Regions from separate parts of the Homo sapiens genome. Here all the other regions are linked to region 2. The links come from fine-mapping of genetic effects on gene expression. A gene starts in region 2. Each other region holds a variant in brackets. All regions are shown on one strand. Distances are between the middles of the regions. Region 1 overlaps AHCY (adenosylhomocysteinase). Region 2 holds the start of TRPC4AP (transient receptor potential cation channel subfamily C member 4 associated protein). Region 3 overlaps TRPC4AP (transient receptor potential cation channel subfamily C member 4 associated protein).

Region 1 (8,179 bases), 820 kb after region 2:
CTAAAAACAGAAAGTTAGCTGGACGTGGTGGTGCACGCCTGTAATCCCAGCTCCTCGGGAGGCTGAGGCAGGAGAATCACTTGAACCTGGGATGTAGAAGTTGCAGTGAGCCGAGATCGTGCCACTGCACTCCAGCGTGGGCGTCCGAATGAGACTCTGTCACAAAAAAAAGAACTTTATTCTCGGATCCAAACACTGGAAACCTAGGATTCCGTGTCATCATGGCTCTGTCCTTCTGTCTCTCGGATCTATCTTCATTTCACTTGTAAAATAGACTTGGAACTGGTGAGCTGAGATTGATAGATACCCTTCCCTGTTTAGGAATCCCAGTGGGGTTGGAGCACCTTGTCTCTGCCTGTCATGGAAAATATGTCCTGTGCATAGATCAATTCCAGAGAAGCATTTTGGTTAGCTGCTTGAGTTGAAGAATGAGGAAGGAGATGTGATTGATGGTCCTGTCAAGCCACATGTAGGGGAGGGTGTGGCATGGTTCCCTTTTGAGGGGGGCTGGGCAGCCAAAACAACACATTAACTGAGGCTGGGTGTGAGGATAGAAAGAGTTAACATGAGTACCACACATGGCAGAAACCCTAACAGAACACTTCTGCCTCTATTGGCAGCCAGACGCGTGTAGGGGTCCCAGAAAATGGCACTGATTCCCGGTCTTCCTTTGTTTCTCCCCAGCTGGATGAGGCAGTGGCTGAAGCCCACCTGGGCAAGCTGAATGTGAAGTTGACCAAGCTAACTGAGAAGCAAGCCCAGTACCTGGGCATGTCCTGTGATGGCCCCTTCAAGCCGGATCACTACCGCTACTGAGAGCCAGGTCTGCGTTTCACCCTCCAGCTGCTGTCCTTGCCCAGGCCCCACCTCTCCTCCCTAAGAGCTAATGGCACCAACTTTGTGATTGGTTTGTCAGTGTCCCCCATCGACTCTCTGGGGCTGATCACTTAGTTTTTGGCCTCTGCTGCAGCCGTCATACTGTTCCAAATGTGGCAGCGGGAACAGAGTACCCTCTTCAAGCCCCGGTCATGATGGAGGTCCCAGCCACAGGGAACCATGAGCTCAGTGGTCTTGGAACAGCTCACTAAGTCAGTCCTTCCTTAGCCTGGAAGTCAGTAGTGGAGTCACAAAGCCCATGTGTTTTGCCATCTAGGCCTTCACCTGGTCTGTGGACTTATACCTGTGTGCTTGGTTTACAGGTCCAGTGGTTCTTCAGCCCATGACAGATGAGAAGGGGCTATATTGAAGGGCAAAGAGGAACTGTTGTTTGAATTTTCCTGAGAGCCTGGCTTAGTGCTGGGCCTTCTCTTAAACCTCATTACAATGAGGTTAGTACTTTTAGTCCCTGTTTTACAGGGGTTAGAATAGACTGTTAAGGGGCAACTGAGAAAGAACAGAGAAGTGACAGCTAGGGGTTGAGAGGGGCCAGAAAAACATGAATGCAGGCAGATTTCGTGAAATCTGCCACCACTTTATAACCAGATGGTTCCTTTCACAACCCTGGGTCAAAAAGAGAATAATTTGGCCTATAATGTTAAAAGAAAGCAGGAAGGTGGGTAAATAAAAATCTTGGTGCCTGGAAGAATTTTGAGCCTTTATTTTATAGATAATCCTCTGCCAACAATGTATGCCATGAATAGGGGGTTATAGTCGTGCTGATGAAGCATTCACGGGGTACTCTGCAGTGGAACGGCTGTCTGTGGTCCTTAGGCTTGAAAGAATGGGTAAAGTGAAGAGGGAACTCTTTCGTTTTTTTTTGAGACAGAGTCTCGCTCCGTCACCCAGGCTGGAGTGCAGTGATGCAATCTCAGCTCAATGCAACCTTCGCCTCCTGGGTTCAAGCGATCCTCCTGCCTCAGCCTCCTGAGTAGTTGAGATCACACCCAGCTAATTTTTTTTTGGTATTTTTAGTAGAGACGGGGTTTTACCATGTTAGCCAGGCTGATCTTGAACTCCTGACCTCAAGTGATCTGCCTGGGATTATAGGCGTGAGCCACTGTGCCCGGCTGTTTGCAGTATTTTTAAAAGTGCACTAAGTGGGGACTCACATTAAGTTCTAAAGATACAATGTCAAGTAAAACCCTTAAGTCACACTCAATGGCCCATGATCAGTGAGGCATGAGGGGCTGAAAACTGCTCACTCTGGCTTAGATGCTCATCAGTGTGTCCTGCCTGACAATTAATTCTTACCTTTTCTTTTTCCCTGAGTGCACATAGTTTAAGTTGCATAAGTTACGTGTGTATGTGATGTGACTCTGCTGTAAATAGTGTACAGACTTTGGTACTTCAACTATTATTAGTACCAAATGACAGGGCACCCACTCCCAACTGACCACAACACAAGTGGTCAAAACAGGCTGAGATCTTGCACACTTGGGTGACAGGCATGGTGCAAGCATCTTTTAGAGTTGTTGTTTTTTTTTTTTTTCTAGACAGTCTCGCTCTGTTGCCCAGGCAGCAGAGTGCAGTGGTGCTATCTCAGCTCACTGCAAGCTCCACCTCCCAGGTTCATGCCATTCTTCTGCCTCAGCCTCCCGAGTAGCTGGGACTACAGGCACCCGCCACCACGCCCGGCAAATTTTTTTTTGTATTTTTTTTTAGTAGAGATGGGGTTTCACCATGTTAGCCAGGATGGTCTCGATCTCCTGACCTCGTGATCCACCCGCCTCGGCCACCCAAAGTGCTGGGATTAGAAGCGTGAGCCACCGTGCCTGGCCTTTTTTTTTTTTTTTTTTTTTTTGAGACGGAGTCTCACTCTCGTCGCCCAGGCTAGAGTGCAGTGGCACAATCTCAGCTCACTGCAACCTCTGCCTCCTGAGTTCAAGCAATTCTCCTGCCTCAGCCTCCCAAGTAGCTGGGATTACAGATGCTCATCACCACACCTGGCTAATTTTTGTATTTGTAGTAGAGACAGGGTTTCACCATGTTGGCCAGGCTGGTCTTGAACTCCTAACCTCAGGTGATCTGCCCACCTCAGCTTCCCAAAGTGCTGGGATTACAGGCATGAGCCACCATGCCTGGCCTTAGTGCACTAAGTGGGGACTCACATTAAGTTCTAAAGATATGATGTATCTTTACATCATATGTAAAAAGGTATGGTCTTATTTATTCCTCATAGAGACTTGAATTCCCCTGTCTGAGGCTCTGAGAGGAGCCATAAGCATGAGCTGACTTTTGTATGTGGTAGGACTTAGACCAAAATCCAAGCCCCTTCCACACCAGCAAGGTCAGGTTTAGGAAGGGAGCCTGGATTCAGATTTCCCAACATTAGATCAGGAACTCTGGAACTGTAAACCAGAGGGCTACCCAGAGCCCTGCCTCAGTTCTTCTACTGGGGTGGCTGCTGGGACGATAACTTCACAGTAGAAAAAAGGAGAGGCTGCTGTTCTTCTAAGCCAGAGAGGTTGAACGCCTTCTGCTGCACAGCCGCTGCCTGTGTGTGCGCATGCTCCCTTCCCTCTAGCGTGTCTCCTCCTGGATGTGGGAAATGCTGTCAGAATGCTTCCTCCTGCCAGATCCCATGTAGCCCCCCACCTCCCTTCTTCCAGGAGTTCTGGTTTCTGTTATGCCAGCCTCTTCCTTTCCTGTTCGGAGGTGTCCTGTCAGTTCCCAGAACCTTTTGTTTCAGAAAACACAGCCCCTCTTTTCACATCTGGTCTCAGACTTACCTCTGATTTCAGGTCTGCTAATCTGTCACATGTGTGACACTGACCGGGTACCCACAATGAAAGATGATGTGTCTCCTGCTCCACCCCCAATACCCCAATACTCCACTCCTGATATCTGGGCTGCCCCCATCAAAGCTTCATGGAGAAAGAAGGAATTGGCCAAGGGTCCTGCAGTATCCAGGCCTAGCCCTGGTTGGATTTTTTCCAGGAAAGAGATGGGAAGATGAGGCCTGTGGTTGGTGGAAAGTGGCTGTTTATGGAGCAGTGGACTGAACTTTGGAAAGAGGAGCCCTGGGTCTGCTGCTGACTCACTGTGTTCCCCGCAGGGACAGAAATACCTACTTCAGATGGCTGTCTTGACGCTCGAATGATAGAACATTAGTGAGGAGTTTTTATGCTGAGTTTTTTTTTTTTTTTTTTTTTTTTTGAGATGGAGTCTTGCTCTGTCGCCCAGGCTGGAGTGCAGTGGCGCGATCTCGGCTCACTGCAAGCTCCGCCTCCCAGGTTCA[C/T]GCCATTCTCCTGCCTCAGCCTCCCGAGTAGCTGGGACTACAGGCGCCCGCCACCGTGTCCGGCTAATTTTTTATATTTTTAGTAGAGATGGGGTTTCACCGTGGTTTCGATCTCCTGACCTCGTGATCTGCCTGCTTTGGCCTCCCAAAGTGCTGGGATTACAGGCATGAGCCACTGTGCCCGGCCTTTATGCTGAGTTTTAAGGGCTGTATGAGACACCAGGTGGTGGGAGGGAGCTGTTTTGAGAGCAGGGAATTTAGGATACTTAGGAAATTAGAAAATTAGAGAAGTCATAGGATCTTGGAACTAAGGGAGAACCTTAGAGTCCTGTGGAGCAGAACCCAGCATTTGTATGTGGAGAAACGGAGGCCCAGAGAAGTTGTGACTTATCCGGGTCACTCTGCAGGTCTGGGTGTCCCACCCGAGTCCATGTCAGGGCTCTTTCTGCACACCAAGCCCCATGCCCACCTCTGTGTGACTGGCTGTGGTGGGAGGGGCCTCCTAGGCTAGAGGTGCTGGGATCCCTTTTCAGTCCAGAAATAATGAGCTTAGAGGGTCTGGAAGTAGCATGGACTAAAACCCAGGAAGGATCCACAGGGACTGTTGATGCCAGTGAGGACTCCAGGAAGCCGGATCACGGGGACTGTTGATGCCAGTGAGGACTCCAGGAAGCTGCTGTTGGGACAGCCCTGCTTTGGGAGTCTGAGGTTCCAGGAAACCCCAGGAATCCGGATTCTCATCCCTGAGACCTACTCAGGACTAGCCCAGGGGACCGAGCTAGGAAACCTGCTTGAGGTGGTAGAGGCAGCCAGGGGTGTGCAGTGGTCCGGGCGGGCTTCGATCAGTTCCAGGTTGGTTGCTTCTCCAAACTGGCTCCAAGACAGGCATGTGGCTCAAGTTGGTCTGGACTCAATCCCGGGACTTTAGGACTTTTGCTAGAAATCTGGTGTGGTGCAGGAGCGACTCCAGGATTCACTCTGTGGGCTGCTTGGACTCAGACTCCCCCAGGACTAGAGGCTGCTTCTCCCTGGTGGGAGGAGTTACAACCTTGCAAGGGTTCTAAAGACCCCCGGGTGCTGGGTGGTGGGCTTTTCCTGACAACTTCCATAAGTTATTGGAACCTAAATTCACACTGCTTAGCATCGTAATAGTCTGATCAACCCTGCTCAGTGTTGTCATACTTGCCCTATTACCAGGGAGAGAAATAGAGAGGTGGGTGCCTCCCTAGAGTATCCACCCACACTGTGTACTGAATGCCCCTCCTCAACCTGTCTCTCGTGGGGACCTGCACCTGCTTTTCCTACTAACTGCTGGCTTGTATTTATTCCCCTAAAGCCTGTTCCATAACCCAGTGTGGTTCTTAGACTTGAGCAAACCTCAGAAACACCTGGAGGGCTTATCCCCAGTCCTGATTCTGTAGGTCTGGGGTGAGGCCTTATAGTGTGCATTTTAACAACGTCCCCAGTGTTTCCCAATGCTGCTGGTGCACACCAAGTGTAGAATTTGCCTCTGTGCCTGTTGCACAGTAGGTGGAGGTGGCAACTGTAAAAGAGACCCAGCTATCCTAAAAACAGAAAAGGTACTGTCTTCAGTGGGGCTGCCAGGATTGGAAGGAATGTGAGCCTGTAGCTGCTCCTTTGCCCCCACGAAGGCCAGCTTGCCTTAGGATGAAGCCAACACAGACCGGGTGCAGCAGCTCACACCTGTAATCCCAGCACTTTGGGAGGCCAAGGTGGGCAGATCACCTGAGGTCAGGAGTTTGAGACCAGCCTGGCCAACATAATGAAACCCTAGCTCTACTAAAAAAAAAATAGAATAAAAAAAAAAATTAGCCGGGCATGGTGATGCACGCCTGTAATCCCAGCTACTCAGGAGGCTGAGACAGGAAAATCACTTGAACTGGGAGGTGGCAGTTAGAGTGAGTTGAGATCACACACTGCACTCCAGTCTGGGGGACAGAGCAAGGGCTCATCTCAAAAAAAAAAAAAAGAAAGATATAAAGCCAACACAATTGAGAGAGAGTGACACATTCCAGAGAATATTTGAGTAGCTGAATCTAGACATGTTTTACACTAACTGGATCTAGCCCCTTTTTAGTGAAATGAACCCCCCAGAAAGTTACCTTCTTTCCCTAAACCCATCTCAATAGGTTGCTGTCTGACAATTCTGAGTCTCGCTGTAGTGGAGAAGACATTGAAGACACCAGGTTATAGAAAAACAACAGAGAAAAGAAAACAGAGGGCCGGGTGTGGTGACTCATGCCTGTAATCCCAGCACTTTGGGAGGCCGAGGCAGGCAGATCACCTGAGGTCAGGAGTTCGAGACCAGCCTGGCCAACGTGGTGAAACCCCGTCTCTACTAAAAATACAAAATTAGCCTGGCATGGTGGAGCACACCTGTAATCCCAGCTACTTGGGAGGGTGAGGTAGGAGAATCGCTTGAACCCGTGAGGCGGAGGTTGCAGTGAGCGGAGATCAAGCCACTGCACTCCAGCCTGGGTGACAGAGCGAGACTCCATCTCAAAAAAAAAAAAAAAAAAAGAAAATAGAGAACTTGGGCCAGGTCCCCTCCCAGCTGCACCATGAAGGGGACTGGATTCGCCCCCAAGACTGCCTTGTCCAATCCCTTCATGGTGCAGCTGGGAGGGAATTTTGCCCAAGGTCATACAGCAGTGAGGGGCAGTGCTGGAACAGGAATTTGTACCACCTGACTCTTTTAAAGAGACAAAGTCTCATTTTGTCATCCAGGCTGGAGTATAGTCACATTCATGGCTCACTGCAGCCTTGAACTCCCGAGCTCAAGCGATCCTCCTGCCTCAGCCTCCCAAATAGCTCAGACTACAGGCGCGTGCCACCACACCTGGCTAATTTAATTTAAAATTTTTTTTTGTAGAGATGGGGGCTCGCCATGTTGCCCAGGCTGGTCTCAAACTCCTGGGCTCAAGCAATCCTCCTGCCTCGGCCTCCCAAAGTGCTGGAATTACAGGAGTGAGCCACCATACCCCAGCCCCTCTTGATTCTTTATCAGTGCCCTATCCTGTACCTCTCATGGCCTCTTGAGTAAGTACTGACCCAAGAAAAGAAGATGCAGCTGCTTCTCTCCAGAAGCTCCACTAGTGAGACTACTCCCTGGGGTGGTGTTGACAAGGTCTCATTAGAGAGCTGGGGAGTCACATGGGGAGTCTGTTGGGTACACCTCTTGGGCCGAGTCTCTTGCAAGGTGTTGGCTCTACGCAGGCAGAGTCCCCTCTGCCTGGTTTTCAGTGGCCTGGTGTTTAAGGGCCTAGGCTCTGGAATGACATGGGCTGGATCTGAATCCCCATGCTGAGGTGTGAGGTCTATCTAGACACATTGCTTAACATCTTTGAGCCCCAGTTCTCTTATTTACAGTGATACTTAGGTCAAGACGTTAATTTGATAGTCTTGGTGTCATGCCTGGCATGAAGTAGCTGCTCAATAAATAATCACTGTTAGTATGGCACTATGATAACTGCAGACCACACAGGCCTCGAGCAGTGAGCAGCAGCCCAATATTTACTATTGCTCTGGTAGTCTATACAGCCATAGAGTCCACGAATTCTAAAGAGGAGCTCTGGAAAGTGTGAAAGCCTCTGGACTCCAATGAAGCTATTTGCTGGGCTCCCCAGGCAAAAAGAAGGCATAATAATTGTCAATATCATCATTCTCACCATTAGAAGGTGCCACCTCCCAGACTCTACAACTCGTATATCCAGCTGGGAGAGCTTCTATTTCTCTGCAGGCAATCAATTAATAGAAACCTCCTTTCTGTAATGAACATGAAAGCATTTGACAGTTTTAAAGGATTTTACCAATTAAACAAAAGTCATTCCTTTTCCTCCTTCCTGAACCCAATACCCGCTCCCAACATACACACCTTCTACTCCTGGTACATGGAAGAAGAAAGGGTAACTCGTCTACTCTAGACTCATCTTAAATTGACTACAGATGGTTTGGCTAATTCAGTTCAAATTAAATTCTTTT
Region 2 (8,179 bases):
ACGTGTGTACATATGTATATATACACACGTGTGTACATATGTATATATACACACGTGTGTACATATGTATATATACACACGTGTGTACATATGTATATATACACACGTGTGTACATATGTATATATACACACGTGTGTACATATGTATATATACACACGTGTGTACATATGTATATGTATATACACACGTGTGTATATATGTATATGTATATACACACGTGTGTATATATGTATATGTATATATACACGTGTGTATATATGTATATGTATATATACACATATATGTACATATGTGTATATATGTATATGTATATATACACATATATGTACATATATGTGTATATATACACAGAGAGAAAGATAAAATATAGTTTTAGTAGCTGACAAGTCTAAGCAAAGGGTATATGAGTGTTAATGGTGTATCTTTTAACTTTCTGTAGATTTGAAAAACTTCCCCAAAAATGCTGCGAGAATAATAAGATAGTGCAAAGAAAGTGCTTGGCCAATGGTAAGTGCTCAATAAAGGGTAGATCTTACCCAGAAGTATAAGCCCCATGAGGGCAGGAAATTTTGTTTATTTTATTTAGCACAATATCCACAGCACCTATAACAGTGCCTGGCACATAAGATAGTACTTAACAAACATTTAAAAGACAAATCATGGAGAGGTTGTACATTAGAAATGTAATGTAAAAAAAAATCACTGTAAAAAATGACACCACAGGACAATGCATAGTTGCATGGGACAGCTGTTACCATGGCCTGATATAACAGTGCCAGTTGCTTTGATTAAAGTGACTTCTTGGCAGGGTGCCATGACTCATGCCTGTAATCCCAGCACTTTGGGAGGCTGAAGCGGGAGGATTGCTTGAGCCCAGGAGCTTGGCGGCTGCAGTGAGCTATAATCACACCACTGTACTCCAGGCTGGGCCACAGAGCAAGACTTCAAAAAAAAAAAAAAAAAAAAAAGTCCCAGAAAATCTGTCTGCCCAATTGAGATGAGTTTGGCGATTTATTTACAAGAGTTAATGTTCTCTGAATAGCATCATCATGTTTGGTTAAGCCATTTGGGATTACGGTGGAAAAAAAATTAGCCAGTTTGGGAGCTTCATTTTTTTTCTAGTGCTGATTAAAATTGACATCAACAGACCTCTGGTGGGAGAGGTACTTCGCCCTCTGGTGGTGAGAGACACTCAGCTTTTTTTTTTTTTTTTTGAGACAGAGTCTTGCTCTGTGGCCCAGGCTGGAGTGCAGTGGCGCGATCTCGGCTCACTGCAAACTCCGCCTCCCGGGTTCAAGCAATTCTCCTGCCTCAGCCTCCAGGGCAGCTGGGACTACAGGCGCGCTTCACCCCGCCCAGCTAATTTTTGTGTTTTTGGTAGAGACGGGGTTTCACCATATTGACCAGGCTGGTCTCGAACTCCTGACCTCGTGATCTGCCCGCCTCGGCCTCCAAAAGTGCTGGGATTACAGGCCTGAGCCACCGCGCCTAGCCTCAGCTAGTTTCTACGGAAAAGGCTGGCAGAGCAGAGGTGAAGTGGAAAAGAGTGTCTTTCCACAGAGGTTTCTGGAAACATGTCCCCTTACTTCATGGTCACATGGTATCTGTAAGGACTGAATTTGAGGTTGTCATTTTTGACCCAGTGAATACCCAGCTTTGGTGAATGCCTGGGCCAGGCTAGACTGACAAAGATAGGAACTGAGGAATGGAAAGTGACATTTGCAGTTGGGTCAAAGCTGAGGTGGGAAGATTTGTCCCTAGCATGATGAGTGCCAAGGGAAACCTGGAGGGCCATGTGAACTGTGAAATTAGTCAGGATCCTGTCTCCTCACCGCGACAAGGGTGAGAATATCCATCACCATATGCCTCAGGAAGAGCTCTGGGTGGAATCCCTGGGCTGTGGATTCCCTGGTAAGGCTGGCTGCTGCCCGGACAGCTCACCAATGCCCTGTTTGTATCCCTGGAAATGCCTTTTCTTTTTATGTCTTTTTAAAGTTAATTTCACATATTAGAAGACTTTTTTTTCTTGAATCTAGAAATGATACATAGCTGGTGCAAAAAGTTATGAAAAGTATTGTTATTGAACCAAAGTGAGGGCTGCTTACCTGGTGCAGCAAAGCCACTGACATTGGGATTACAGCAAGAGAAAGTGAGGCATTTATTATTGCACTTGCTGCAGGGTGCCAAGCGAGGAGAATCAAACAGCTTATGCTTAAGACCTGAACTCCCTTATGGCTTACAGGGGTTTTATTTTATTTTTTTGAGACAGAGTCTTGCTCTGTCGCCCAGGCTGGAGTGCAGTGGTGCAATCTCAGCTCACTGCAACCTCTGCCTCCTGGGTTCAAGCGATTCTCCTGCCTCAGCTTCCCGAGTAGCTGGGATTACAGGCACGTGCCACCATGCCTGGCTAATTTTTGTATCTTTAGTAGAGACGGGGTTTTGCCGTTTTGGTCAGGCTGGTCTCGAACTCCTGACCTCAGGTGATCCACCTGCCTCGGCCACCCAAAGTGCTGGGATTATAGGTGTGAGCCACCGCGCCCAGCCGGCTTACAGGTTTTTAATGGCAGGAGGGCAGAGGCCACAGGCGAAGTCATAAATCAATACATAGGGGCTGTATATTGGTTCCACCTAAAAAGACAGGACATCTCCAACCAGGGGCCCACAAGTGGATTCAAAGATTTTCTGACTTGTAATTGGTTAAGGAGGTAAAGCTTTGTCTAAAAATTTGGGATCTGCAGAAAAGAATGTTAGCTCTGACTTATGGTCGTGTCCTCCTCCAGGCCCCCTAGGAAGAAATTTATAACAAAAAATAGAAGTCAAAGTTTAGTTCTCAGCTCTCCCTTATCTGAGTTTGCCTATCAGCAGATCCATTTGGTGGGGGTTCGAGTTTCTAAGAAACAACACTCAGGGACAAATTTTAAGATGTTATATTCAGTTTCTATAGGGAACAAAATATCTCCTGACTGTAACTTCTTTGGCTATTTTTTTTTTTTTTTCTGAGATGGAGTCTCATCCTGTCATCAAACTGGAGTGCAGTGGCGTGATCTCGGCTCACTGTGACCTCTGTCTCCAGGGTTCAAGTGATTCTCCTGCCTCAGCCTCCCAAGTAGCTGGGACTACAGGTGCATGCCACCACGCCCAGCTAATTTTTGCATTTTTAGTAGAGATGGGGTTTCACCATGTTGGCCAGGCTGGTCTCGAACTCCTGACCTCATGATCTGACTACCTCGGCCTCCCAAAGTGCTGGGATTACAGGTGTGAGCCACTGGGATTACAGGTGTGAGCCACTGCACCCGGCTGAGTTTATTTTTGTATAATGTGAGAGATGAGGATCCAGTTTCATTCTTCTGCATGTGGCTTGCCAGTTATCACCAGCTGTTGAATAGGGTGTCCTTTCCCCACTTTATGTTTTTGTTTGCTTTATCGAAGATCAGTTGGCTATAAGTATTTGGTTTTATACTGTGTTCTCTATTCTGTTCCATTGGTCTATGTGCCTATTTTTATACCAGTACCATGCTGTTTGGGTGACTATGGCCTTATTGTATAGATTGAAGTCAGGTAATGTGATGCCTCCAGATTTATTCTTTTTGCTTAGTCTTGCTTTGGACATGCAGGCTCTTTTTTGGTTCCATATGATTTTTAGGATTCTTTTTTCTAGTTCTATGAAGATGGATGGTGAGTCTACTCCTTTTAGATGGGGTGTGAGGATGGTAACCATAGTGCCAGTTCACCTGGGAGAGTCACTTTTATGCCTACCGTCCCGGTGTAATTATTTATTGTGTCTTTTCATTCTTTAAAGTGTTCTGGTTTGAGCAGTAAGTTACAGTCATCTTAGTTATGAGTCACAATCTTCACCATTCCCTGTTACATCACACTTAGCTCTCCTCTTTCATTTTTATTACAGGCCCCCTGCTAGGAAGGGAAAAAGTGTGTGTGTGTTGGGTGGGGGGAGTCAGTGCCATCCTGCCACAGAAGTTAGCTGAAAAAATGAGTATTAGAGACAACATGCTATCTGGTGGATAGAAATTAGGACAGGGTTTTCATCTGACAGAGAATATGATGTCACAATTTACTAATCCCTTTCCCTTCCATTATTTAATTTCACAACAACCTACCCAGTTACACAACTTATCCAGTTTGAGACTGCGTTTCTTTGTGTATGGATCTGCTGTCTTCCCCTGTAACCTGCATTTCGTGATAAAGGATCCCAGGCCGTTCTGCTCACCACTGTATCCCAGACACCCTCCCTTTCCCCTAGACATGGTTTGGTGTCGGGCGCAGAGAAAGCCCCAGGAACTACGATTGATCAGGCTCCCAGAATCTATAGATGGAGTGACCTGACGAGGACACAGGCGCAGTGGCAGAGCGCGATGACTTGGTCGATGTCCGCGGTGAGTCACGTGTAGAGAGAAGCAGGCAGGAAGCGGACTCGAGGGCCTGACTCCTGACCTGAAGCCCAGGATCATTTCTTGGCCAGCTGCCTGCATCCTGCCCAAATCGGCGAGAGAAATGGGAGAATGTGGACCTTGGGAGATTTCGCCGAAATGCTGGGCCCGGGGGCCAGAGAAACCGGCAGTGCAGGAAAGGCCACATCTCTTTTCCCACCTACCCCGCTGCCGCGCAGGACTACAATTCCCAGTAGCCTCCACGCCGCACACGGTCCCTGCCACGCGGCTTGCGCCTCCGCCGACGGCCCACTGGGGGCGCTGCGGCGACCCCTCCGCCGCCCCGTAGAAATCTCCGCGGCCCCGAGGCCGCTTGCTTCCTGTTTGTCCGACGAGGAGACATGGCGGCGGCGCCGGTAGCGGCTGGGTCTGGAGCCGGCCGAGGGAGACGGTCGGCAGCCACAGTGGCGGCTTGGGGCGGATGGGGCGGCCGGCCGCGGCCTGGTAACATTCTGCTGCAGCTGCGGCAGGGCCAGCTGACCGGCCGGGGCCTGGTCCGGGCGGTGCAGGTACGAGGCTGGACCAGGAGGGGCGGGGCGGGGCGGACCAGGCGGGAGCTGGCGGGGGGCCGGGGAAGAGGCCTTTCCAGGCCGCCGCTGGACGGGCCAAAGCCCTTTTGGCTGGCCGGAAGGCCTCCCTGTGAGCTGCCCGGACGCTCTCAGCTGCAGCGGGGCCGTGGGAAGCAGCTGGCTTGATGTCCCTTGTCAGGGGCCGAGCGGGGCTGGGCTGCTGTGGACACTGATGGCGTGTACGAACCCTGGGCCCAGTTTCTGGATCCTCCCTTCTTTGCGCCACGTCTACACGTCTGGGGGACCCTGTCGTGTTTGTTTTAGCCTCTGTGGGCCTCGAGTTTATCCCGTGTATTGGGCGTGGGGGAGGGGGTCATCATTGCAGCCCCCAAATGGTTCCCGAGCATTTCATAAATGTCATTTTCTCAGGCCTTTCCTTGACACTCTTTCCTTCCCCTTTCTAAAGTAGGTCCCCATTGTTATTCTGTCACAGCCGCGAATTCGTTTCGTTTACATTACTTTCTTAGTCTATAATTTCGTATTTCTTTGTTGTCTGCCTTTTTCTCGCCCGTCTCCCACATTAGGCTGAGTTCCAGCGGGTGCAGAGACTATATCTGGTTTGCTAGTGTAGAGCGTCACGGTTAAGAGGGACTCTGGAGTCAGGCCTGGGTTCAAAGCCCTGCTCCTCTCTCTTGCTTGGGCAGGTGACCTTTCTGTGCCTCAGTTTCCTCACTTGTAAGATGAAGATGAGAATTAGTAACCTACCTTTTAAGATTGTTGTGGAGATCAAAGGGGGCAATTGTGTAAAGCATTAGTGCATTTCTGGTGCATACTAAGGGCTGAAGGTAGTTAATATTAAGCATCTGACTTATAACAGGTGCCCAACATATGATTATTGTTATTTTTGAGTGAGCGAAGGACACTGCTTTAGGGTAAACCAGGTTGAATAGGACCTAGTCCACTACTTCTTCCACCCTCCCCCACCCCGAACCTTGCTAACACCTGTAAAACATTAGCTTTATTTAAAGACAGCTTTTTCATAAAAAGTTTGAAGGATACTCAAGAAACTGATAAAGTGGTTGGTGGGAGTGAGGTGGGAATTGGGCTAAAGGGGGAGAAAATGGGAGTGAGACTTTTCACAGTGTAACTTTATTTAAATTTAATTTGAATATCACTTCCTCAAATGACGAAAAGGATAGAATAAAATAAAGGCTAGGGGGTCTGTGTGTATGGAGGACTGTGGACGAAAGGAGCAGTTGTGAGTGAGAAATGTTTTCCTGGCCATCACACAACCATAGATGAGCAGCCTTTTTCCCCCTTGTGTTCTTAAGACCTGACTTAAGACCCTGTAATCCCAGCACTTTGGGAGGCCGAGGCAGGCAGATCGCTTGAATCCAGGAATTCGAGACCAGCCCAGGCAACACGGCAAAATCCTGTGTCTCCAAAAATTTAGCCGGGCATGGTGGTGGTGTGTGCCTGTGGGGAGGCTGAGGTGGGAGGATTACCTGAGCCTGGGAGGCGGAGATTGACAGAGTGAGACCCTGTCTCAAAAAAAAAAAAAAATCCTAGAAATACTTGCTCTTTCCTTCTTAAGCTAAGATACCTTACCGAGCTGGGTGTGTAGAGACAGGCAGAAAGAGGACTAACTTTTAGTGAGCACATAACCTTTAGAAAAAGTACGGTACAAGGCATATGTTATCTTTAATCCTCAAGCTTTTGAGTTATGCTTCAAGACTCATTTCTTAATATGGATGAGGAAACTGAGGCTCAGAGAGGTTAGATGATATGTTCCTAAACACCCATCCTGATAATCAGTGTTCTGAGAATAATAGGGAGCCACAGAAGTTCTTTAGCATGATAAATGAGGCAATTTAGGCAACTTAATTTGTTTCCAGTGCTGAATGACTTAGAATGGGAGGAGCCTAGAAAAGCCCACCAGAGGCTGGGCACAGTGGCTCATTCCTGTAATCCCAGTGCTTTGGGAGGTCGAGGCGGGTGGATCATCTGAGGTCAGGAGTTTGAGACCAGCCTGGCCAACATGGCGAAGCCCCGTCTCTACTAAAAATACAAAAATTAGCCGGGCGTGGTGGTAAGCACCTGTAATCCCAGCTACTCTGGAGGCTGAGGCAGGAGAATTGCTTGAACCTGGGAGGTGGAGGTTGTGAGCTGAGATCACGCCACTGCACTCCAGCCTGGGTGACATAGTGAGACTTCATCTCAAAAAAAAAAAAAAAAAGCTCACCAGATACAAGGCTGCTGGAATATTCTGGAGCCACAAAAGCAAGGCAGGTTATTGTGGTAACTGATGGTTGTATATAGGTGTGGGAGCTATTTCAGAAGTTGAAGTAGAGACCCCCTGCCTGGAGCTATAGTGAGGATAAAATGGGGACCTTCATCTTTCAAATATTTCTTTTCTTAGTTTTTTTTTTTTTTAATTTATTCCATGCTGTGCCCTTCCGCTCCTCTCTCCCATCCTGCAGAATAAGTTATTTGCTTACCCTTTTTTTTTTTTGAGACAGAATCTTGCTCTGTCACCCAGGCTGGAGTGCAGTGGCAAGCTCAACTTCCTGGGCTCAAGTGATCCTCCCACCTTAGCCTCCCTAGTAGCTGGGACTACAGGCGTGTGCCACCACACCCCATTAATTTTTGTATCTTTGGTAGAGACAGGGTTTTGCTCTGTTGCCCAGATTACCCATATTTTTATACTGTTATGGCATGTGGTATAGTAGGAAAAGACCAGATTTAAACATTTTTTATTTTTTATTTTTTAGACGGAGTCTCGCTCTGTTGCCCAGACTGGAGTGCAGTGGCGCAATCTCGGTTCACTGCATCCTCCGTCTCCCGGATTCAAGCAATTCTGCCTCAGCCTCCTGAGTAGCTGGGATTACAGTCGTGTGCCACCACACCTGGCTACTTTTTGTATTTTTAGTAGAGATGGGGTTTCACCATGTCGGTCAGGCTGGTCTCCAACTCCTGACGTCATGATCCCCCTGCCTTGTCCTCCCAAAGTGCTGGGATTACAGGTGTGAGCCACTGCGCCTAGCCAAAATTTTTTCATTGTAGTAAACAAATATATAATATAGGCCAGGTACATTGGCTCATGTGTGTAATCCCAGCACTTTGGGAGACCAAGATGGGATGATCACCTGAGCCAGTTTGAGTCAAGCCTGGGCAGTGTGGTGGAGCCCCAGCTCTACTACAAAAAAAAAAAAAAAAAACATTAA
Region 3 (8,179 bases), 36 kb after region 2:
CAGTTTTTTTTGCTTCTTGCTACAATTTTAGAAATACAGTTGATTTATGTATATTGATCACATATCGTGAAATCTTGCTGAACTCTTGCTTATTGGCTCTAATAGTTTTTTTGAGTGGATTCTTTAGGAATTTTCTGTATTCTAGATTGTGACATCTGTAAATAGTTAGTTTTACTTATTCCTTTCCAATTTGGGTGCCTTTAATTTCTTTTTTTATTTTTCTCTAGTTGCCTTAGAACACTCAGTACAATGTTAAATTGAAGTGGCGAGAGTGGACATCTTTGTCTTTTTCCTCATCTTAATGGGAAAGCATTTAGTCTTCACTGTTAAGCGTGATGCTAGCTGTGGGTTTTTTAATAAAAGCCCTTTATCAGGCTGAAGAAGTTCTCTTCTATTCCTTGTTGATTGTTTTATCATGAAAGTGTTTTGGGTTTTTTTTTCCAAACGCTTTTTCTGCATCTGTTGAGATGACCGTGTGGCTTTTGGCTTTTGTCCTTTATTCTATTGATATGGTGTATTATATTGATTTTCATATGTTGAACCAACCTTACATTCCTGGGATAAATTCCACTTTGTCATAGTGTCATGGTGTATAATCCTTTTCTTGTTTTTTTTTTTTTTTTTTTTTTTTTGGAGACAAGGTCTCTCTGTCACCCAGGCTGGAATGCAGTGGTGTGATCACAGCTCACTGCAGCCTCTCCTGGGCTCAAGCGAGCCTCCTATCTCGGCCTCCTGAGTAGCTGGGACTACAGGAGCATGCTACCATGCTTGGCTAATTTTTGGTTTTAATTTTTGTAGAGACAGGGTCTCACTATGTTGCCCAGGCTGGTTGCATACTCTTGGGCTTAAGTAGTCCTCCTGCCTTGACGTCTCAAAGTGCTGGGATTACAGGCATAAGCCATCATGCGTGGAGTATAATCCTTTTTGTATGTGTCTGGATTTTGTTTGCTAGGGTTTTCAGGATTTTTGTGTATATATGCATGAGATACTCATCTGTAGTTTTCTTGTGATGTCTTTGTTTGGTTTTGGTATCAGGGTAATACTCGCCTCAAAGAATGAGTTGGGAAATGTTTCCTTCTCTTCTGTTTTTTGGAAGAGTTTGTGAAGAATTGATCATTCTTTAAATGTCTTGTATTGTTCACCAATGGAGCCATCATGTCCAAGGTTTTTCTTTATGGGTAGTTTTTTGTTATTGTTGTTTTTGTTTGTTTTTTTTTAAATCACTAAGTCAGTCTCTACTTGTTATAGGGCTGTTCAGATGTTCTGTTTTTTCTTCTTCTTCGTCTTCTTCGTCTTTGTCTTCTTCGTCTTCGTCTTCTTCATCTTCATCTTTGTCTTCGTCTTTTCTTCATCTTTTCTTCATCTTCATCTTCGTCTTCTTTGTCTTCATCTTCTTCGTCTTCATCTTTGTCTTCGTCTTCGCCTTCTTCTTCATCTTCTTTGTCTTCGTCGTCTTCTTCGTCTTCTTCTTCTTCGTCGTAGTCTTCTTCCTCTTCTTCTTCTTCTTATTTCTTCTTCTTTCTTCTTCTTCCTTCTTCTTCTTCTTTTTTTTCTTTTAAAGAGATGGAGTCTCACCCTGCCATCCAGGCTGGAGTGTATTGGCATGATCATAGCTCACTGCAGCCTCAACCTTCTGGGCTCAAGTAATCCTCCTGCCTCAGTCTCCCAAGTAGCTGGAACTATAGGCGTACCACCACGCCCAGCTAATTTATTTTATTTGTAGAGACATGGGGTCTTGCTGTGTTGGCCAGGGTGGTCTCAATCTTCTGGCTTCAATCAGTCCTCCCACCTCAGCCGCCCAGAGTCTTGGGATTACAGGCATGAACAACCATGCTCAGCCTCTGTTTCTTCTTAAGTCAGTTTTTAGTTTTATGTCTTTCTAGGAATGTGTCCATTTCGTCTAGGTCATCTAATTTGTTGGCATACAGTTGTTCATAGTAGTTCCTTATAATCACTTTTGTTGCCATAAGGTTGGTGGTAATGCCCTCTCCTTTATTTCTGAGTATAGTAATCTGTATCCTCTCTCCTTTTTTCTTGGTCAGTCTAGTTAAGAATTTGCCAGTCTTCAAAGAGCCAGCTTTTGGTTTTGTTCATTTTCTGTTATTTTCTATTCTCTGTTTCATTTGTTTCAACTCTTATTCTCCCTTTTGCTTGCTTTGGGTTTAGTCTGCTCTTTTTCCAGTGTCTTAAGGTAGAAGATTAGGTTATCGATTAGAAACAATTTTCTTTGGCCGGGTGCGGTGGCTCATGCCTGTAATCCCAGCACTTTGGGAGGTCAAGGTGGGCAGATCACCTGAGGTCAGGAGTTCAAGACCAGCCTGGCCAACATGGCAAAACCTCGTTTCTACTAAAAATACACAAAGTAGCCAGGAGTGGTGGCAGGCACCTGTAATCCCTGCTACTCTGAGGCTGAGGCAGGAGAATCGCTTGAACCCAGGAGGCGGAGGTTGCAGTGAGCCGAGATAGGGCTATTGCACTCCAGCCTGGGAGACAAAGCAAGACTCTGTCTCAAAAAAAAAAAAAAAAAAAAGAATTTTCTTTTAATATAGGCATTTACAGCTATAAATTTCCCTCTGAGCACTCCATTAGCTACATCATAAGTTTTGGTATTTTCATCCTTCTTGGATACTTTATACTTCCCCTTGTGGTTTCTTCTTTGGCCCATTATTATTTAGGATGGGTTTTTAAAATTATCCATATAATTCATGAATTTCCCAAATTTCGTTCTGATTTTAATTTCATTCCATTGTGGCCACACAACATACTGTATGTGATTTAAGTGCTTTTAAATTTATTGAGGCTTGTTCAGTGGCCTGAAATTTGATCTGTCCTGGAGAATGTTTCATGTGCACTTGAGTAGAATGTATACTCTGTTCTTGCTGCATGGAGTGTTCTGTAGATGTCTGTTAGAATATATGTGTTCGTTGTGTTCAAGTCTTCTATTTCTTTGCTCGTCTGCCTAGTTGTCTATTATTGAAAGCAGAGTTATTAACGTGTCCAACTTTTATTTTTAAATTATCTGTTTCCTTCATTTCTGCCAGCTTTTGTTTCATGTATTTTTGGGCTCTATTGTTAGGTACATACATATTTGTAGTTGTTATATCTTTCTAATGGATTGACCCTTTTATCAACTATCCTTTCTCTCCGTAGAATGAATTTTTAAATACATGCTTATTTTAAACAGTTTGTGCAAAATTGTATTAAAGTATGTAAAATAAAAAACACATGCATATAACCCCCAAACCTGTAGAAATCAGTGTTAACAATTTATGGTGTATCTTTTGAGTCCTTTTAAAATAAACTTACAAATGTTCTTTAAACAGAAGAATCATAGTAATAATGTTCTGCAGCTTTTCAGAAATTAAAGCCGCATTAGATCCCAGAGATTACCTAATCTAAAATACTTCTTTTCAAAAATGAGAAAGCTGAGGCCAGAGAAGGGCAAGTAGGTGGCCAAGCTGGGACTAGAACCTGGGTCTCCTGACTTGCTGCAGTCAGGAGCCTTACTGAACCTTAACTGCCTCCTGGAACAAAAGGGTCTTGTAATACTGTGACAGATACATGGGCCATGAATGGTTATGGCAAAATCATTTTATAAGTTATACTTTGAATTAATTTTGAAGATTTTATCTAATTTTTTTTATAGCTTCTTGTAGAAATTCTTATGAGGCCTACGATCTCTATCCGGGGACAGAAACTGAAAAGTAAGTATACCTATTAGCTACTGGTCCTTGTTTTCCAACCTGCCGATACGGTGGCAGTTCCCAGCAGCTGCCTTCTTCCTTCCCTTCCTAACTCTTAATAGTAAGGACATGTCTTACATTTAGCTACAGGTTGCTCTCTCCTCCCCCAGCTAAGCAGCTGTCTTTATTCATTCTGTACTGCGTAGAAATTCAGATCTGGGTTAAGAGAATGCATCTTTGTACTTTTGATAGTCCTGTGATCCAGCTTCTATGTTTCCTTGGGAAATTCTTCTTTCTCACATATAACTAGCTGAGAGAGTAAGATCACTCTGTTTTATTTTTTTTAAACTATTTTTTTTAGAAAGGTGATACATGCTCTTTGTAAAAAGTTCAGGCATTACCAGGGTGTGAATGGTAAAAAGTCAGAGTGTTTTGGTATGCACTATTTCTTAAGCTGGGTGGTAGATATATGGGTAATATTCTATTATTATTTTTTATAACTTACACGTTACAAATAATTCTTTTTAGGTATTCAATTTTTTTTTTTTT[G/TTTTTTTTTTG]AGACAGTCTCTCGCTCTGTTGCCCAGGCTGGAGTGCAGTGGCATGATCTTGGCTCACTGCAACCTCCGCCTCCTGAGCTCAAGTGATTTTCCTGCCTCACCCTCTCAAGTAGCTGGGATTACAGGCGCCCACCACCATACCCGGCTAATTTTTGTATTTTTTTTTTTAGTAGAGATGGGGTTTCACCATGTTGACCAGGCTGGTCTCGAACTCCTGACCTCAAGTGATCTGCCCACCTCAGCCTCCCAAGTGCTGGGATTACAGGCATGAGCCACCGCACCCAGCTTCGGTATTTAATTTAAAATAAAAAAGTGAATGCACTTTACTCTGGTGTTAAAAGCCAGAGATGACTTCAGTTAATGTTTGGTGAATGCCCTCCTACCAACTTTGCGTTTTTTTAATTTAAAAGATTTTTTTTTTACCCCAATACGACATACTGTATAAGGCCTCATTTGTGCATGCAGTAGTGGTTATTAAGAGGATTTATATTCATTTTTAATGTCTCAGCTGTGTATTCTAACTTGGTCTTTCATGTTCTCTATGTACCCTCATAGCAAGTAGCATATTGTAATTATTTGTTGGTGCACTTGTTTAGTCTCTCTTCTTCCCACTAGATTTATAGGTTCCATGAAGGCTGAGACTTTTTTTCCCTCACCACTGTATCTGCTCTAGAGTAGATGCTGAACAATACTTGATGAATGAGTGAATCCCAATTCCTTTTAAAAATGGAGGATCTAGAAATAGTGAGATATATAGTGAGACATGCAGAGCAGTGTTTCACCCTGCTCTGAAGTCGTTAAATAAATCAATCACAGAGCCCCAGTAGGTTGAAAGGTGGTGATAAGGGATGCAGAGCGTCTGCGTTGTCTCAGGATTATGAGACAACCCATCTAGTCAAGCTAGCTTGGCAGGGCTGCCCATTGGGATCTGAGAAGGAGACCTAGCATTTTAGCATTCCTAGCAGCTTAGGAGTGAATGGAAACAATTTTAAAAAATAGAAGCAAGTGCCAAATAAAGCACTTTGTCCATGGTTCATACTCAGTTTCATCATCTTTTGGTTTTGGGCTCATGAAAATTAAGTTTCGTTTTTATGCTACTTTCCTGTTCCTGCTCACAGGGAAGTAGTAGTTTCTTTATAAGAATTAGTAATAGATCAGACATTAAGAGCCATTTGCCCAACACAGATAACAGCAACAAAAAAAGAAATGCTCAGTTAATGAGTCTGATAAAAATGGTATTTTTGTTTGCTGCAGTAGAACTTTCAATGGAAATTTATAACAAGAGCAATTGAGATGCTTATACTTTTAACTTTTAGCCAGGCGTGGTACACGCGCATGCAGTCCTAGCCACTCGGGAGGGTGAGGAGGGAAAATTGCTTGAGCCTAGGAGTTCGAGACTACAGTGAGCTGTGATTGTGCCCCTGAGTGACAGAGTAAGACCTCATTTAAAAAACCAAAACAAATGAACAAAAAAAAGATGCCTATACTTTAGATTCTAGTAGTTCTACTTTTGAAAATGTATCTTGAGGAACTAGTTTAATACAAACATGAAAAGGATACACATATATATTAAGTTGTTCATTTGTGGTCTACTTAAATAGCCAAAAAACACAAAAAACAAAAAAAACAAATCCTAGATATATCCTAAGCAAGACATTAAGGGAAAATGGCTTTATTAAATGATGGCACAACAACAGGTTGAAATTATGAAGACTGTGGAGCATAATAAGAAAACAGCTGCTGTATCAAACCAAAAGCAATATGCAAATGGGCTTGTAGGTTCTGATGGGCACTATGAAAACCTTTGGTAGACAGGGGCTGGAAGAAGTATATTAAAGGAAAAATAATCATCTTGGAGGGGATTATAACAGTTCTTATGCTGAAAAAAATGTGGTAACTGTTGTACTATCTTTTCATTGAGAAAAATAACCAGTCATTACCCTTTCACTTTCAGTAAGTGATGAAATGTCCAAGGACTGCTTGAGTATCCTGTATAATACCTGTGTCTGTGTAAGTACCCCTGCCACTGGGGCTCTGTTTATCTCCCCTACCAGGTCTGCAATGTTTAAGATGGGAATATTCGAGTAGAATGGCAGACATAAGAGCTGCTTTCAGACAGTGGGGGAATCGGGCTTATTTTATGTGTGCCTGAAAATCAGGACTAACTGGTAGAAATTACGGGGAGGCAGAATTTTGTAGCAGTTGTTAAGAGCCAGGACTGCTGCAGCAGGTAGTAAACTCCTTTGGCCTTAGAGCTGTCCAAGTAGAAACTGGACACTTGTCAAAAGGTGACAAGTGTTGGCAGACTGTGACCTTTAAGACTCATTTTAACTCCATTATGCCTATTTCTTCATTTTCCTTGTTAGAAAACAAAATGAGAACCAGAAGCCCCGCCCATATATTGAGCAGGACTCTACTAGGTTGACCACTGAGCCAGGAAGAATGGTGAATAAAGAAAGCAATCTGGTAGAAACAAAAGAGGATGGCACTTAGTGTTAGGACCTGATTTTGTGTTCTGGCCCTTGGCTTAGTACACCTCCCAAGCCGTAGTTTCTTACCAATAGAATGCAGTTAGCAGTTGTATTAACATCATAGATTTATTGTGAGAAATGAGATAGTAGATGTGAAAACACTTTGTAAAACAATATATAAATGTTAGTTTTTAAAAGATACAGTACCTGTCTTTTAGAAACTTATGATAAACTGTGTAAACTGTGAATCATAATACATGGCAGAATGAGACGAGCGCTATTATAAATGTGAACCCTGTATGCTGTGGAAATAAAAAAAAAAAAACATTTAGCTCCATTTCATTTCTTGCCTCATTCAAAATAAGATTTCTGACATCTTGTGGGTGTATGCAAAATCTACCAAGATCACGAACTTAGAAGCAGGTAAGAAAGAAGAAGATAAAGGTGGGGACATAACGTATAGCCAGGAATTGGGCTGATATAAAAATGAAGACCATAAAATCATCTGTATTACGGATGGGCACAAATTTGGCTTCAAGCTTCTTAGCAGCCAACACAAATAGGGGAATATGTTTGAACACTTACGTAATTCAGCATCTATAATAGTGCTGTGCAATTGAAATATAATGCAAGCCACTTGGGTTATTTTAAATTTCCTTGTAGCCACATTTTTTTAAAGAAAAAAGTAGGAAGAAGTGGTGAAGTTAATTTTAATGATAAATTCTGTTTAACACAGTGTATCAAGAATATTGTCATTCTAACATGTAATCAGTATAATTAATTATTAATGAGATATTTACTTGTTTTTCGTATTGAGCTCTCAAAATCCAATGTGTGTGTGTGTTTTGTTTTTCTTTCCTCTTGTTTGAACACCCAGAGCACATCTTAGTTTGGCCTGGCCACCTTTTAAGTGCTCGGTAGCCATGTATAGCCAATGACAGAGATAGGCACAGGGAGATCTATAAGATAAAATTTCAAATTGTTCAGGAAATGCACAGTTCTTGCAACTAAGGCCAATAAGAAATTGTCCTTATAGAAGAAGACAGTGTATAATATAATGACTCCATCTTTGGCAACTCCATATAGTCACTAGTTTTATGAGGCCGTTTTAAAATCATGATACCTAATGTTAATCAGTGACATTCCAATAAAACAGTTAAGTTAAAAAAATGAAATGTATGAAGAGAAGTTGATTAATGGGTACAAATATATGGGATGATAAATAAGACCTAGTGTTAGATAAATCAGTAAGGGTGACTTAGTTTATAATATTCTGTTCTGTTTTACATTTCAAAATAGCTAGAAGAGAATTTGAATGGTTCTTAGCATAAAGAAAAGACAAGTATTTAAGCTGATGGCTATCCCAAGTACATTGATTTGATTTTTATAAATTATACGAATGTATTAAATTATATGCTCCCTGAAATTATGTACCTTTATTATATATCAACTAAAAGTATTTTTAAATAAAATTTT

What was found.
Region 1: its variant is fine-mapped to the expression of TRPC4AP in whole blood (TOPMed, PIP above 0.99).
Region 3: its variant is fine-mapped to the expression of TRPC4AP in whole blood (INTERVAL, PIP above 0.99).

What each region holds. Positions count from the first base shown.
Region 1 is chr20:34,273,671-34,281,849 of GRCh38, reverse strand. AHCY (adenosylhomocysteinase) reads left to right here. Exons shown (of 10, transcript NM_000687.4): 10 at 685-1,582. The coding sequence ends at 816. Among named protein-coding and RNA genes, the nearest start is that of AHCY, 26 kb to the left of the region's middle. The variant C/T (reference allele first, on the strand shown) is at 4,178.
Region 2 is chr20:35,089,390-35,097,568 of GRCh38, reverse strand. It overlaps TRPC4AP (transient receptor potential cation channel subfamily C member 4 associated protein), which reads left to right and starts at 4,762. Exons shown (of 19, transcript NM_015638.3): 1 at 4,762-4,955. The coding sequence starts at 4,788. RefSeq lists silencers at 1,098-1,227, 4,861-4,990 and an enhancer at 6,517-7,076.
Region 3 is chr20:35,053,039-35,061,217 of GRCh38, reverse strand. TRPC4AP (transient receptor potential cation channel subfamily C member 4 associated protein) reads left to right here. Exons shown (of 19, transcript NM_015638.3): 4 at 3,647-3,704; 5 at 6,187-6,242. Among named protein-coding and RNA genes, the nearest start is that of TRPC4AP, 36 kb to the left of the region's middle. RefSeq lists an enhancer at 5,221-5,330. The variant G/TTTTTTTTTTG (reference allele first, on the strand shown) is at 4,233.